2 linked regions of the Homo sapiens genome follow. The protein of the gene in region 1 purifies or fractionates together with the protein of each later gene. This does not show direct contact. Each region holds a gene or a part of one and is shown on either strand. Other genes may lie near its edges.

Region 1 (3,500 bases):
GCATTGTGTGCCTAAATCTGAGCTGCTTCTTGGATAGAAACCTTCGGGTTTTCCCTTAGTGCTCCCCTTGGGGTCCCTTTCAAAGCCCCCCACCCCCCACTGCATGCTCAGGGAGGAGGGTTCTCTGGACAGAGGTGTGAATTGTGTCTCTAGTTCCCAGGGGACCACATCTTTCCGTTGTTTGTCCCTTGCCTCCATCATCCAGGGTTGGGGAGCTGCTGGGTAACCTTTCTGGGGAAGGGGAGAGGCTCGAACAGGGAGGGAGGGGAGAGCTGGTCTCAGGGAGGAACAAGTGGCATGACCTAAGGCCCAAAGGCAGAGATATTGACTTGCCTCGTCATTGTTGTTGAAAGCCAGGAAGCCAAGCTGCTGAGGGTGGCAGCCTATGACAGGAAAGCGCCTCTCCCCTCTCTTAGGGCACCCTACAATATCAGGCGCAGCTCTACATCAGGGGACACCGAGGAGGAGGAGGAGGAGGAGGTGGTGCCATTCTCCTCAGATGAACAGAAACGGAGGTAATGGAATGGTGCCTTTTGGGCATCCCGGGGGGCAGGGCAGGAGCCTGAGTCTTCGAAGACTGCTGGAATGAATTGTACTGGTTGGGGTGACAAAATGCACAACACGTAGGCCATCAGCGGTAGCCCACGGAGCATGAGAATAGGTGTCATTCTCTGAGTGCCAGAACCACCCACTCAGTGTTGGACCAGCTGAGGGGCCCTTGAGAACCTTCTGTGGGGTAGAACCTAGGTAATGTGGGTCCGGGGAAAAGCCTCCTCATGTGGAGGCTCTTCAGGGCTCTAAATCGGTTTGTTAGAAAGGGCCCTGAGACAGTTGAACAAAAATATTCAGGGAGAAGCCACCTGCACAGTGCCCTCTATCTGCATGATCTGCATGCCTTGGGGGTTCTGAATGCCCCGGACCCCAAACTGAGCTCCAGGCATGCACAGCAGTGGGAGTGTGCCCCATGCTGCTGAAATTCTACCCTAGTCTCTGCGCCAAGCTGCCCTCGTCCACACAGGCCAGCAAAGTTCCATGGACCCTTGCCCCTCCTCAGTCCTCTGTCCATGGGGACTGACCACATACCACCCAGTGCTGGTGAACTATGACAGGAAGGGTTTGTTAAGCACCTTTTGTATGCCTTTGGCTTGGGGCCTGTACAGCAGTTGGGCCCTGAGGAAATAAAGCCCTCCCCTCCCTGGGCTCAGCCAGCCACCAGGTCCATATCTGCTGACCCATCTGTGGCGCAGGAATCACAGCAAAGCCCCATTGCCAAAGGCCCTGGCAGATTGGCTATCCTCAGGGAACAGTTCACAGTGGCAGGGGCCCCCAGGCCTGGGTGGAGCAAGGAAAAGAGCCAGAAGCTAGGAGCTGCCTAGCATTGAATGCCAGCTCTGCCACCTGCTAGGTGAGTGCTCTTGGGCAAATAATGAAAGCTTCTTGGACTCAGTTTCCTCATCTGTAAATCACAGAGGATACTAGCGTCTACTTTCCTGGATTGAGAAGAGCAATAAGCCAATGCGAGGATGTTGGCATCTGGCGCAGAGCCGGGCACATGCCACATGCTCCATAAACATGGGCTGCCCTTCCTTCAGGTTCTACATTTCCTTTGAATAGTCCTTGGAGCAGGTGCAAATCTGGTTTCTCTCACCCCTTGCCTCCCTGGGGTGGCCCTAAGTCACCCCGAGTCCATCCCAGGCTAGGCTGGCAGAGCATGTCCAGCTTGGCACCCATCAGATGCTCCCCCATCCCGTGTCACCCCAGGTCAGAGGCTGCAAGCGGTGTTCTGAGGAGGACAGCTCCCCGGGAGCACTCCTACGTCCTGTCAGCGGCCAAGAAGAGCACTGGGTGAGTTGCCACCAACTGGCTCCAGGCTCTAGGACAGCTCTCCTCTCCTCAGAGCTCCAGCCTTCTCTGGCTGATGAAAGGGTGGGTGGAGAGATCACCCCCAAGGGCCTTCCTAGCTGAGCCTTCTCAGATTCTCAGATGTACTTTCTAGAAAATGGAGAGGTCTGGCGGCTACCACCAGGGACAGTGAAGTGCCGGGAATGGAGAGGGCCCAGGACCCTCTGAGGTAGAGCGGTCTTGATGTCACCTGCCCACGGGCTCTGCCCAAAGCATTGCCTTTCTGCTTCCTTTCCAGCAGTCCTACCCAGGAGACACAGGCACCGTTTATCGCGAAGAGGTAAGTGTCATCAAGGGACACCTTGGAGGCCTGTTACTGGCCACAGGAAGGCCTTCCGTCAGCAGGGGTGTAGTGTGGGAGCTGTGGAGAGGGGATGTGGATGTGGGGGACTACTGTCCCTGAGCAGGGGGAGTTGTGAGGGGCTGGGGGCTTCTGTCTGGAGGCCTGGCAAGCACCTGGGTGGCTGTGGTAGCATATGTGGTCAAGCTCTTCCATTTGCCAATGGCTAATGGGGCTGGGCCCCTGACCCAACGTGGAGCATTTCCAAGGCCCTCTGGGAGTTGTTCCCCTGCCCCTGTTGCTTGCCTGATGCCTTGCCTTCTGCTCTCATCCAGGATCAAAACCTGGGCCATCAGGAGAACTTCCCCTGGGAGGTGACTGTGACATTGGAGATGGGCCCTAAAGGGTGAACAGGGCTTAACAGGGAATGATCAGAACGTCGGGATACTCCAGCTGAATGAGGGAGGGGTGTCACCATTAGTTGAGACAGGGCACCTTCTGGAGGAGGAAAATATTCGGGGGAAAGCAAGAAAGAAACTTCTGGAAACTTGAATTTGAGGGACTTCCAGTTGAGTGGACAGGGAAGGCCTCTCTCTGTGCTGAGGTGGCTAGCTGGGGACTGCAAACCCAAGAGAAGACAGCATGCCAACTGCCCCAGGCAGAGGGCCCCAGTGCACAGGCCCGGGGTGGGACTAGCTTGCTGTGTTGGAAGACCAGGAAGTTGGCAGGAATACAGAGAGCAGGGATGGTGGCAGCACAAAGGAAGTGACAGAGAACGGGGGGCGGTGGGGGGGTCTTCCTGGCTGCATTTGGTTCCTGTGGTTTCTGTAACGCAGTACCAAAAACTGAGTGGCTTAAAACATCAGAAAGGGATTCTCTCCCGGTTCTGGAGACCAGAAGTCTAGATCAAGGTGTTAGCAGGGTGGGTTCCTTCTGGAGGCTTTGAGGGAGAAACCATCCCAGGCCACTCTCCTGGCTTCTGCTGGTGGTTGGTGATCCTTGGTGTTCCTCGGCTTGTACCTGCATCACTCCAGTCTGTGCGTCTGTCTTCACATGGCCTTCTCTTCTCTGTGTGTCTGTGTCCAGATTTCCCTCTTCTTACAAGGACAGCGGTCATTGGATTTAGGACCCATCCTACTCCAGTATGACCTCATCTTACCTGATTACATCTGCAAAGACCCTATTTCCAAATAAGGTTACAGTCACAGGTTCCAGGGGACATGAATTTTGGGGGGACACTATTCAACCCAGTATGCTGTCCTTATCCTGAGCTGGAGTCACTGAACCCCCAGCCTGGGCCACCTCTTGGCCGTGATCC
Region 2 (3,500 bases), on another chromosome or scaffold:
CCTTCAGCAAATTTTATAAATTTTGATTCTATATTACTGTGGTGACAATTACTTCCTATTTTCTATTGTGCTAATGAAGGCATGAGAGATGTCAGCATATGTATCTATGTCACATACTTAGAACACATAAGCCCCCAAATTTCAAGTTATTTAAATTTAAGTATCTTTTTACTTCTGATCATTAATTAACTCAATCAATTATTAATTAAAAAAATAACTAGCTTTGCCAATGGTAGTTAAAGATTAAGTTTAGACACTCTTTTGGAATAACTACTCTTTTTCACTATGGCCATTTGCTTAGCATTTGGCCTTAATAAAAAATGACAGGTGAAATCCAACTCCATCATTTTATAGATGTGAAAACAGGCCTACCAGGAGAGTTAAGTAAACTAGTCAAGGTCATATAACTGATAAACGGCAAATCAAGGTTTTCTTAGTGTATTTTAGTGTATTTTTCATTATACAATACGTAGTGATGTATCAACTACAGATACATACAGAAAGTAATACAGAAAGCAATCACCATAAAAGATATCCTGTTTAAGTAAATTTTGTTTTGGTGTATTTTGAATTTATTCATAGGGTTGCAATGAATTTTGCTGAATGTAATGATGCTACAATAATACTACTGAGGACATTGTTAATTACACAACAGTAGCAAAATGAGAATCTTAGGACAAAACATTTTCTATATGTTACATTTTAATATGATAGATTACATATAGTAAATATTCACATTCAATCCAATAAACACTTGATTTTTTTTTTTTTTTTTGAGACAGAGTCTTGCTCTATTGCCCAGGCTGGAATGCAGTGGTGCTATCTTGGCTCACTGCAACGTCTGCCTCCCGGGTTCAAGTGATTCTCCTCCCTCAGCCTCCCAAGTAGCTGGATTACAGGCACCCGCCACTATGCCTGGCTAATTTTTGTATTTTTAGTAGAGATGAGGGTTTCACCATTTTGGCCAGGCTGGTCTTGAACTCCTGACCTCGTGATCCATCTGCCTCGGCCTCCCAAAGTGCTGGGATTACAGGTGTGAGCCATCGCGCCTAGCCTAAACAATTTTATGCATAACACTGAGTCTCCCACTTAGAAGCAACTGCTTTTATCCTGTGTTGCCCCCTCCTTGCTATGAGCTCCTTAAAGTTAAGCAAATTGGTGAGCTCGAAGGCAAGATTATTATTAAAAGATATATGAATTCTAGCTTAGTATCAAGACCTTTGTCTGAATCAAATCATGATTTTTTGATACATTTAAAATGTGAAATCAAATCAACTAGTTTGTCATGTTACAGAATTTGTTTTACTAACTTGATAAAATACATAAATTACTAAAAAAGTAAAATGATTTAAAAGGTAAATAAATTATAAGATTTCAGTACTTAAAAGGACAATGGTATGCCAAAAGTTTTAAAAAGTTAAGTTTTACAGACCTCTAAGACTCATAGCATATAACACTCCCTAAATTTAAGTTTGACCACAGAATTTCTGTGGGACAAAGCATCACCAAGGACTGGTGCTGGAAGAAATACACTTTGGGAAATATTCTATTATGCCATTGTTCAGAGGACTACAGCTATGCAATGTTATATTACATCCAATTTGCATCTGGATTTAAAATCCAGACAGACATAATAGATATACATGAAATAAGATAACATTAAACAAGCATACAAAATATGTCAAGGCAATTTATAACTATATATAACTATAAAATTGATAATGCTAAGAGCCCAGAAAGGCAAGACCACAGGAGGCTGAGTTAAGAGTAGTCAAGGAAAATTCTGTAATAGTCTTAATCCATAATAGTTTTGAAACTGAAATGCTGATACCTGTCATTGGGTCAATAGCAGCTAAATAAAATGCTAAGGATTTGACATATGTTCACTTAATTCTCCCATAACTCTGTGAAGTACATGTTATTTCTACTTTATAAACCTCAGTTAAAAACTTATCTATGTAGTTAATACCACCGAACTATATACTTAAAAATGGTTAAGATGGTAAATATTATGTTATACGCATTTTCCCACAGTAAAAAAAAAAAAAGGACTCACTTGTCTAGGTCATATAATGTATGTGAAATTCTTACAATGACTTCTACTCCAGCTTCAGTTGCCAGTTTCTTAATAGCTGCGTCTCGTTCCTTTCCAAAGGGCTCAGAATCATACTCAATTGAAAGTTTAGTAATGTTCCATTCCTAAAGTAAGAGAAAGGGGAACAATGTACACCAATTGTAATAGTTATTTTTTCTATTATAACGAAAAGTGAAAAAGCTGAAAATCTACATATCAAAGGATTATACATAAATCAAACTTTGAATATGCAGGAAAAAGTAAACAATTTATCAATTAAAAAATACATAAGTAATGAATGCATAACCCATTAGATTCTAGGCATTATGCTAGGCAACAATCTAGCAAAGCAATATGCTTAAAACCAGCTCTTATACTAAATGTGTTTGTAGAGCACTTTACTTTTTCAAATTACTCATACTTACATTATTTCATTTGAGCCTCAAAACAACACTCAGAGTTTGGCACTTTGGTTAGTATTTCCATTTTGGAGATAAGTTTATTTTTAAAACTTAGGGACCTGCCAGAGTTCACAGAAAGCCAGACCACCTGAATTTATGTCTGTTGAGTCTAAGAACTGGTCTTTAACTAACCTTTGATATTGATATGGTATAAGCTGCCTGGCTGAGGTCGTGTGTGTGTGTGTATGTAAATATTTTCTTTCTGATTACTAAAAAACGTTAACTGAAAAATTTGGAGATGGTAATAATAATAGCAGTTACTTATTATCAGGAGCTATGTTAATAAGTTCTGTACATCTCCTTATACTGATTTTAAATGAGGAAACTGTGACTTAAAGGAATTGATTTTTCTTAAGGAGAAAGTTTTTTTTTTATTCTAAGTCTATTCTGATTTATCTCATAAAGAAAAAATTCTACCATTATTTAACTGCCTATATGGTAACATACTATAATTCACCAAACACCTCCAGATTAGACAAGGGCTATTCCAATGGTGGGTTTAAAAAAATTGCTATTCTAGGCGGCGTGCGGTGGCTCATGCCTGTAATCCTAGCACTCTGGGAGGCTGGGGTGGGTGGATCACCTGAGGTCAGGAGTTCAAGACCAGCCTGGCCAGCATGGTGAAACCCCGTCTCTACTAAAAATAAAATCATTAGCTGGGTATGGTGGCACATGCTTGTAATTCCAGCTACTCGGGAGGCTGAGGAAGTAGAATCACTTGAACCCGGGAGGTGGAGGTTGCAGTGTGCCACTGCACTCCAGACTGAGCGACAGGAGCGAGGCTCCATCTCAAAAAAAAAAAATTGCTATTATAAACTTTACAGTATATATCTTTACCTTTATGCACACATCTTACAAATTATAGGGTATTTATCCAATTTTTTCCTAGAAATAATCCCTTGAAAAACAACTGATGGATCAAAGATAAGCACATTCAAAATTCTGATAGGCTGTCAAATTATGTA

The links. The genes of interacting proteins can lie anywhere in the genome.
Region 2: the proteins of ZNF185 (region 1) and CRY1 purify together in Homo sapiens (co-immunoprecipitation; one large-scale study listed by IntAct). This does not show direct contact.

Annotation. Positions count from the first base shown.
Region 1 is NC_000023.11:152,918,567-152,922,066, forward strand, and holds part of ZNF185 (zinc finger protein 185), read left to right. Parts: intron 1-416; coding exon 417-515; intron 516-1,761; coding exon 1,762-1,845; intron 1,846-2,140; coding exon 2,141-2,182; intron 2,183-3,500. UniProt on the Homo sapiens protein: May be involved in the regulation of cellular proliferation and/or differentiation.
Region 2 is NC_000012.12:107,003,050-107,006,549, forward strand, and holds part of CRY1 (cryptochrome-1), read right to left. Parts: intron 2,200-3,500; coding exon 2,057-2,199; intron 1-2,056.